Homo sapiens: one gene and its partner. The main gene of each other region encodes a partner of the protein of the gene in region 2 in a complex. Links are inferred from orthologs where the notes say so. Each region holds a gene or a part of one and is shown on either strand. Other genes may lie near its edges.

The links.
Region 1: the proteins of CLOCK (region 2) and CIPC are in contact, whole or in part, in a crystal structure (PDB 5VJI), measured with the Mus musculus proteins. The link is inferred for Homo sapiens from one-to-one orthologs. Residues at the interface, in NP_001276755.1 of Mus musculus: Gln519, Leu526, Lys527, Leu530, Arg533, Ile537, Asn540, Ile541, Arg543, Gln544, Glu547, Leu548, Ile551, Gln554, Leu555, Val558; in XP_006515773.1 of Mus musculus: Asn401, Thr402, Val405, Leu406, Ser409, Leu411, Ile414, Thr415, Thr418, Leu421, Ile422, Asn425, Thr428, Gln429, Leu432, Leu435, Lys436, Thr439, Gln440, Phe442, Ile443, Thr446.

Annotation. Positions count from the first base shown.
Region 1 is NC_000014.9:77,101,107-77,104,857, reverse strand, and holds part of CIPC (CLOCK-interacting pacemaker), read right to left. Parts: intron 1-3,751.
Region 2 is NC_000004.12:55,545,177-55,548,927, forward strand, and holds the start of CLOCK (circadian locomoter output cycles protein kaput), read right to left. Parts: upstream 1,734-3,751; 5' UTR 1,606-1,733; intron 1,441-1,605; exon of another isoform or gene 277-1,440; intron 1-276. UniProt on the Homo sapiens protein: Transcriptional activator which forms a core component of the circadian clock.

The DNA.
Region 1 (3,751 bases), on a different chromosome or scaffold from region 2:
TAGAATGAACAGAATAGGCATCTGTCGCTTCCTTCTTGTAGCTTATGATCTAGAGAGAGACAGTCATTAATCAAGTAATCACTCAACTAGCGACCATTTTGATAAGAGCTATAAATGGGAGAGGCTAACAGTCTGGGGGACTGAGGAAGTGCACCATAGCTGGGATCTGGAGGATTGGGAATTAGTAGGAGTTAGGCGAAAGGCATGTTCCAGGCAGTGTGAAGGCCCTAAGGGAGCAAGGGGCTTGGCACAAACAAAGAACTGAAAGGCCAGGGAGGCCAGAGCACAGTGTAGAAGGGTACAATGCCATGCACTGATGCCAGACTGGTAGTCAGGGAACAGACAGGCAATACCTTGGAATCCATGTTGGAAGGATTTTAGATATTAACTTAAACGCAATGGGAAGCCATGGAAGAATTTTAACCAGAAGTGTGACATGATCAGATGTGCATTTTATTTATCTTATTTTTTGAGACAGTGTCTCACTCTGTCACCCAGGCTGCAGTGCAGTGGCGTGATCATGGCTCGCTGCAGCCTCAACTGCCCAGATGGAAGCGATCCTCCCCTCAGCCTATGGAGTAGCTGGGACAACAGGCATGTAGCACCACACCTGGCTAATTTTTTGTTTTTTGTAGAGACAGGATCTCACTTTGTTGCCTCAGCTGGTCGTGAACTCTTAGGCTCAAACAATCCTTCCACCACGGGCTTGGCTCTGGGCCTTGGCTTGGCTTGGCATCCCAAAGTGCTGGGATTACAAGTGTACACCAGCTTTGCATTTTAAAAGCATTCTGGATGCTGAACTGAGGCTAAAGTGGAGAAGGGCAAGAGTGGCATTGAGATCATTTAGTTGCTACCGTGACAGTCCAGGTGAATTAAGGTGGTGGCAGTAGAGATGGGAAGAAGAAAAACATGGAGGCCCACCTGATGGGACTGGGTAGGGGGAAGATGGTGGTACCACTTTCTCAGCTAGGGAGCCCAAGAAGTGCACAGAAGGGAGTTGGGTGGGTGGGGCAGGGTGGCATGGTCATGTAGATTTGGTCATGTAGAGACTGAAGTTACTGTGGGTCATCTAAGTGGAGATCCTGGGTAGGCAGTCACATGTAAGACTGAAGCCCAGGAGAGAGGCCTATATTTGCTCCAGTGATAAACAGCTAGTCCACAGCAGATCCAGACCTAGATCAACAGTGCCAAGAATAAGACCAATTGGCCCTTCAAATTGCTGGCTGAGAATAAGAACATTCCAGATATTTTAACATGGCCATTTGAGTCACCAAGGAATGGCAACTGTAAGGCCAGCATGATAATAACACAAGGAATACCACTGGCATAAGGAGAACAGGCCAACAGGGAACATGACAATAATGAAACTGGGAAGATGCAAGCAAAGCCTTGTGATGTTTTAATTCACGATGCACTCCTGACTCTATCCTGTTGTTCTTTGAGTGAAGAAAAACACAAGCCCCCTGCCAAATACCACTGTATCTGGAATACCCTGGAGTGCCAAGTCTGGACATTCCTGCTAATATAAGATCTAGTGAAGAACATTAACTACCCTAGAAGCAGTTCAAAATAAAATTAAATAGAAGACAAGGATGCTTATAAGCAACCCTCTTGCTCGTACTTTTGCATACTGTAGGAGCAGACTAAAGGGAACACAAACTGAACTGAATGAGAATGAATTTTAAACACAATTCCAAGTAAAAATCATTTTGCCCCGTATCTAACTCATTTAAGGGGACTGGCTTCCTCATTCAACTGACATCAAATCAAGCACTCTTCCACAGGTCACACGTTTAATCCTATGTGCATAAAAGATAAACAGTGGCACTGTCACAACTTGCAGAGAACTATGCAAAAGCAATGTCTATCTGACAGCTATGAAATTTGACAGCATGGACGGCCCAGCTTAAAAAGTAGACTAAAGTGTAAAACTATATCTCTAATTAAATTGGATCCTTTTGTATGAAATTCAACAAATGTGCATAGTATAATTTTCCTAAAATAATACTGTCCAAAAGTGAATAGAAGCCATCTCCAAAATGGAAGTAGATGAGGCTTGTGGATGGGCATTCAAACTAATTCATGTCGGACCAGGCTGTTGATTTAGATTAGGAGGGTAGCTCATGTTAGTTGCAACTAATTAAGAACCTTACTTAGGTTCTTAGGTTCTTGAAGTTTCACATTATCTTACTAAACATGGATTATTTTACAGGTACTTTAGATAATGCATCCCAATTTAGTCTTCTACAATCCTTGCGGCAAAACAATGAAAAAGGTCTTGCTATTATTATTAAAGTGTAGTCAATAGAGCTACAGAAAATACACAGGAATTTATTCTGGCTTATTGAGAATTTGTAGGATAAGAGATAATTGATCATGGAGTCAAAATACTGAAACACTGACAATCGGTTTTTGAGGCTCAGAAAATAATACTCCCAAGTATGGCACTTTAGCATAATGAGCACTTTGTTGTTGCTTTTTGTTTTTTTCTGAGACTGTGTCTTGCTCTGTCGCCCAGGCTGGAGTGCAAGGCCACAAACACAGCTCACTGCAGCCTCGACTTCCTGGCCATAAAGAAATTATCTGACCTGTCTTGTCCGATAGCAGATCATAAAACCCTCATTCCAGAATGGGTCCTGCCCTATAACAGAGAGGAAGGAATGCTACACAGAGGTCAAGAATAATTCTGGACAGACAGACCTTGCTGGGTTTCCCACCTCAGTCCATTACTATTAGATCATACTCTTTTTGTTTTTGTTTTGTTTTTTATTTATAGATGGATCACACGCTGTTGCTCAGGCTAGAGCGCAGTGGCACGATCACAGCTAACTGCAGACTCGACCTCCTGGGCTAAAGTGATCCTCCTGCCCTAGCCTCCTGAGTAGCTGGGACTCCAGGCGCATACCACCACACCCAGCTAATTTTTAAATTTTTTGTAGAGACTGGGTCTTGCTATGTTGCCCAAGCTGGTCTCAACCTCCTGGACTCAAGCAATCCTCCCACCTCAGCCTCCCAAAGTGCTGGGATTACAGGCATAAGCCACCATGCCCAGCCAGATCATACCCTTTTTGTCCAATCATATTTCTACACAGCCGTCCATTCTTCATCAAACCTAACCATAAAAATAGACAGTTTTCCCTGAGTTTGGGAGGCTTCACTTCTGAAGACTCCTGTGTCATAAAAAAAACTTTGATTAAATAAAACTGTTATGTTTTTCTCTTGTTAACCTGTCTTTTGTTATGGGAGGGTCAACTATGACCCTTATGGTAGGTGAGGAAAGGTATCACAGAGGTAAGTTAAAAAGAGAACAGATGCTAAATTTAGATCCTGGGGAGTTGGTGGCAGTTGGAAATAAAGAATGTAAAATCGACTTTAGGATGGCAAATTGACTATTTTTCATATGAAAATGATTAAAAATATGAAAGCCTCTATCTTCAGTAAAGTTCTCTTAAGCAGCAAAAAGCCTTAGCATTGCAGCCAGGGAGGCTCACATGGGATGTAGAACAAAGGGCTACATCCCTCCCCAAACTTTACTCTTTCGGAGGAGTAGCAGCACTGCCCTCCTGGGAGTGGCTGAGGGACCCACTCACACATAGCACCACATAAAGCCTCACTTACTACTGGTGCTCTCAACCCCAAAATTTGCAAGGCAAAGTCTGAAAACCTCGGGAAGTTGCTTGATTTTTTTCCTCTTAGATATTAGTTTACAATAAAGTTACATGCTCACACTGACTAGGAGTTGAAAATGGAT
Region 2 (3,751 bases):
TTACATTAGGTATTTCTCCTAATGCTACAGGCTAACCTTTCAAGACATTCTGTTCAGCCAACCACTTATCACAGGAATTAATTTCCTTCCCCCAAGCTTTGAAAACCAATCAGATTTGAGGTGTCCCAAGGGATAAGTTTCAGAGAAAGCAATTCATTATCTAAATTACATCCTTTTAAGAATGTTTATTTTCAAACAGGTAGAGGGGAATATTGCACAATTTTCTCTAATCGCTTAAAGCTACAAATCAGAACGCAATCTTCAAAGTGAAATTACCTTTGATTTGGGGGGATCAGCGTTATAGTCAAATCAACGACTGTAAAAGTTTACTTCTTGTGCTTTTCTTCCACTGTAAAAATTTTTTTATTTTTTAAAGAAGGCTAAAAAGCCTTAAAGTCTAATAGCACGGCATTCTAATAGCAGGAAACCACAATCTGATTTGATCTTTCATCTGCCAGGTCAGAGACTAGGCTTTTATCTTGCAGAATTAGGCTCACCTACCATCAACAAGAGGACCTCTACAAAGCTACAAACACTTTCAAAGAATATAAACTCTGCGGCGCTGCGTGTAGGAAATTACACTCCAGGGGCCAGAGCGCCAGAGCCAACTCCAGAAAACCCAGCTTCACTGGCGGAAAGAAATCTACAAACGCCAGCGGCGGTGACGGGGAACGGGAAGCGCGGGTGGACGGAAGAAGAGAAACCGAGCGCCTCGCCGCCAACCCTCGAACCCGCGCGCGGTCGCTGGAGTCAGACGCTAATAGCCGCGCGCTGCCTAGGAACGGAACCCCGGAACCACCACCACTAACGGAACCAGCCCGCGGCCGGCAACGGCGGCCGTTCGGACTGCGGACTGCGGCACGCGGGCCGGGCGCCGGGAGGGCGGGGGTTCCCCGGAGGAGCTGGCCGCCCCGGCGCCCCATTGGGCGCTGCTCCAAACGTGCCCGAGTGGTGACAGGAATAAAGTGGGTCACAAGGCCTAGCGGGTCCCCAGCGAAAGCTCTCTCGGCACCCGGTCCCCGTCTTTCCCCGCCTCCCAGCTGCTGGAATCGGCCGCAGCTCCGGGCGCCCTCAAGCCGCCCGGCCCCGCCGTGCACCCCACTCCCGCCCCTGCCCCGCAGGTAACCCCAGCTGCCCCAGAGGGCCTCTCAGGCAGGGCGGGCCTCGGCCCGAAGTCCCGGGAAAAGACACACTAGAACGACACGCCAAACTTGGGCTTCAGCTCCCGCCTTCCCCACCCTTGGCCGCCGCCCCCCGGCCCCACACACGCCGCCCCCCGCTCCCTCCCCTTCCCCGCGCCCTCACCGTGTGGCTTGCGGCGGCTCCGGCTTCTTCCCTCCCCCACCCAGGTCTCCCGCTGCGGTGACTCGGAACCACTACCCCGCCTGTGTCCAGGAGGCGCCGCGGCTCCCACCTCCAGCAGCACCTGGGGCTGTGAGTGGCGCCCCCCACCCACCCCCCCAAAAATTCGCCGCTCCTGTGGCCAGCTCCTCCTCCCCCTCCCTTCCCTTCCCCTCCTCCACCAGCCCAGGAGCGCGCATGCGCCGCCAAGGAAGCCAACCGGCACTCGGCAGGCCCTGGGCCCACCGGGCGGGCGCCTCTCACCGGGAGCGCTCGCGGCGGCGGCGGCCAGATTTCCTTCGCGCTCTCGCTCTCCGGGGTTTCCTTTTTTAAACCGGCAGCCGCAAGCCGAGTCCGTGATTGCGCCCCCTCCCGGCGCATGCGTCGTCAGCGACCCCGCGGGCTCAGACGGCCGGCGGAGGCTCTGCGCTCGCCCCTCCCCTCACTCTCCCTTTCCCCAGCGCGGCTCGGTGCGCATGCGACTTGCCCCGTTAGGCAGCACGGAGCCGCGCCAGGGGATCCCGGACGCCCGAAGAGACTCCCGCGCCCCTTGGGCCGAAATCTGGCTCTGCAGGCGCACCGTTCCCTGCCCCGGCCGGGAACGGCGCCGGTTACTAGAAAGCCGGGGAGGCGGGGCCTGGTCGGGTGGAGGGCGCGGCCGGCCGGCAGAGCGCTAGCCTTAGGTCCTGGAGGCTCTTTGGCTTTCCCCCCGTATGCCGGGGGCTAGGAGGAGGAAGAAGAGCTTCCTGCCGGATGAGGGATCCAGAGGCCAGAAAAGGAACCCGCTCTCCCTTCCAAAGCAAAACACTGCCGACGCCAGCTTAGATTTTTCGGGTGTTGGCAGGAGACTTTTTCCCCCAGTGGCATCATTCGTGTTTCCTCTCCTGGTGCTGGGAGAGAAGAGTTGCAAAGGCGCCTGGACCGCCAGTAACATCTTCTCCCATCTCCTGAGGGAGCGCGGCTTGGGTTGCTTCTTCTTGGTGGGTGGGCCTGGGGAGACAGGGCATGCGCCCTCGGCCAGAGGAGGGAAGCGAAAGGAGGTCGGGATTTATTTGCTCATTTGGAGATTTTTCCCTTGCCCTTTTATTAAAAATCAAGTGACAGTGTAATGGAAGATGGAGAATGAAGCATCAGAAATAAACCAGGACCCTAATTTGCATGGATTTCCTCGTTGGAACAACGTGTGACTACTACTTATCTTCGGGAAATTACTTATCTTGATGCGTTAAGGCACATTTGGTCCACATGAGAAAGCACATTTCAGTGCTTCTACTGGAAAAGAGATCTTTACAGTCTTAATTCCTAGTAATTCCTATGTTTTAATGAATATCTTTTGGATTTGAAATAAAAGCCATCTTTTTCTTTCAAAAAATGCACTTTTCTGGCCGTAAAATCCTCCCTTTAAAGTAACAGTCACCTCAGTAAACATTTTCAATTCTTGCTGTATGCTCTGGGCAAAAGAACATCAAACTGAAGCACTTATTCAGATCCTTGATCCTGCACCTAAGGATTTTTCTTTCAGGAGTGGGAAAACATGATTTGTTAATTTACCCCATCATATAGCAGAAGATATTTTGGTCGACATTTTTGCCTGTTCAGCATTCATTCCCTATTCTGATAATTTCTTTTGAAGAACTATCATTTATCCACTCTCAGTCCATATGGTCTGAGCAGGACACAAGGGGAAGGCATATTTGAGTTTAATCCTCGGTTGCAAACTACGGTTCCTAAGAAGGGTGTTACGTCTTTACCAATGGGTTTAAATCTGGGAGAATGGAGACCTGGAGCCATCTTTCCACACGTGAATTCTGAGAAAGAAGGCAACACGGAAAAAAAGCAGATTTGAAGACAGGTTTGGCCTAAAGACATGTTTGAGGCCTGGAAACAAATGTAGATTAGATTCCTCTGGAAATTTCGTTAAACCAGTCAGTAAATTCTTGCATCTGTTTTATTGCTTAAACCAGTGAGAGGTTTTCTTTCACATGTAATCAAGAGTCCCGACTGACAAGAGGTAGGTAGCAAGACGGAGGCAAAGTTATTAATACTGATAAGGTAGGTTGCAGCCAGACAAGAGAGGGCTTGAATGCTTTCCCTAGGATGGATTTTTGAATTTTATTCTAGAGACACTGATCCCTCCTTATATTCCCCATCATCTAGAACATATTATCTTCAAAATACCTTTGCCCTTTTTAATGATTTCATTGTCCTCTCAGTCACCAAGATCAAACCATGTCCATCTTTGACTCCTCCCTCTTTCACTGTATTTAATTATTTACCAAGACCTGTTGATAATCCCCCGTTTTTCTGCTCAGTCCTCTCTCACTGCTTGAACATTTCCCATGGTTCAGTTCACAGCTTCTCCTTTCTCCCACATTCTCTCCAAGAAAAGAAAAAATGTACTGGATATGTC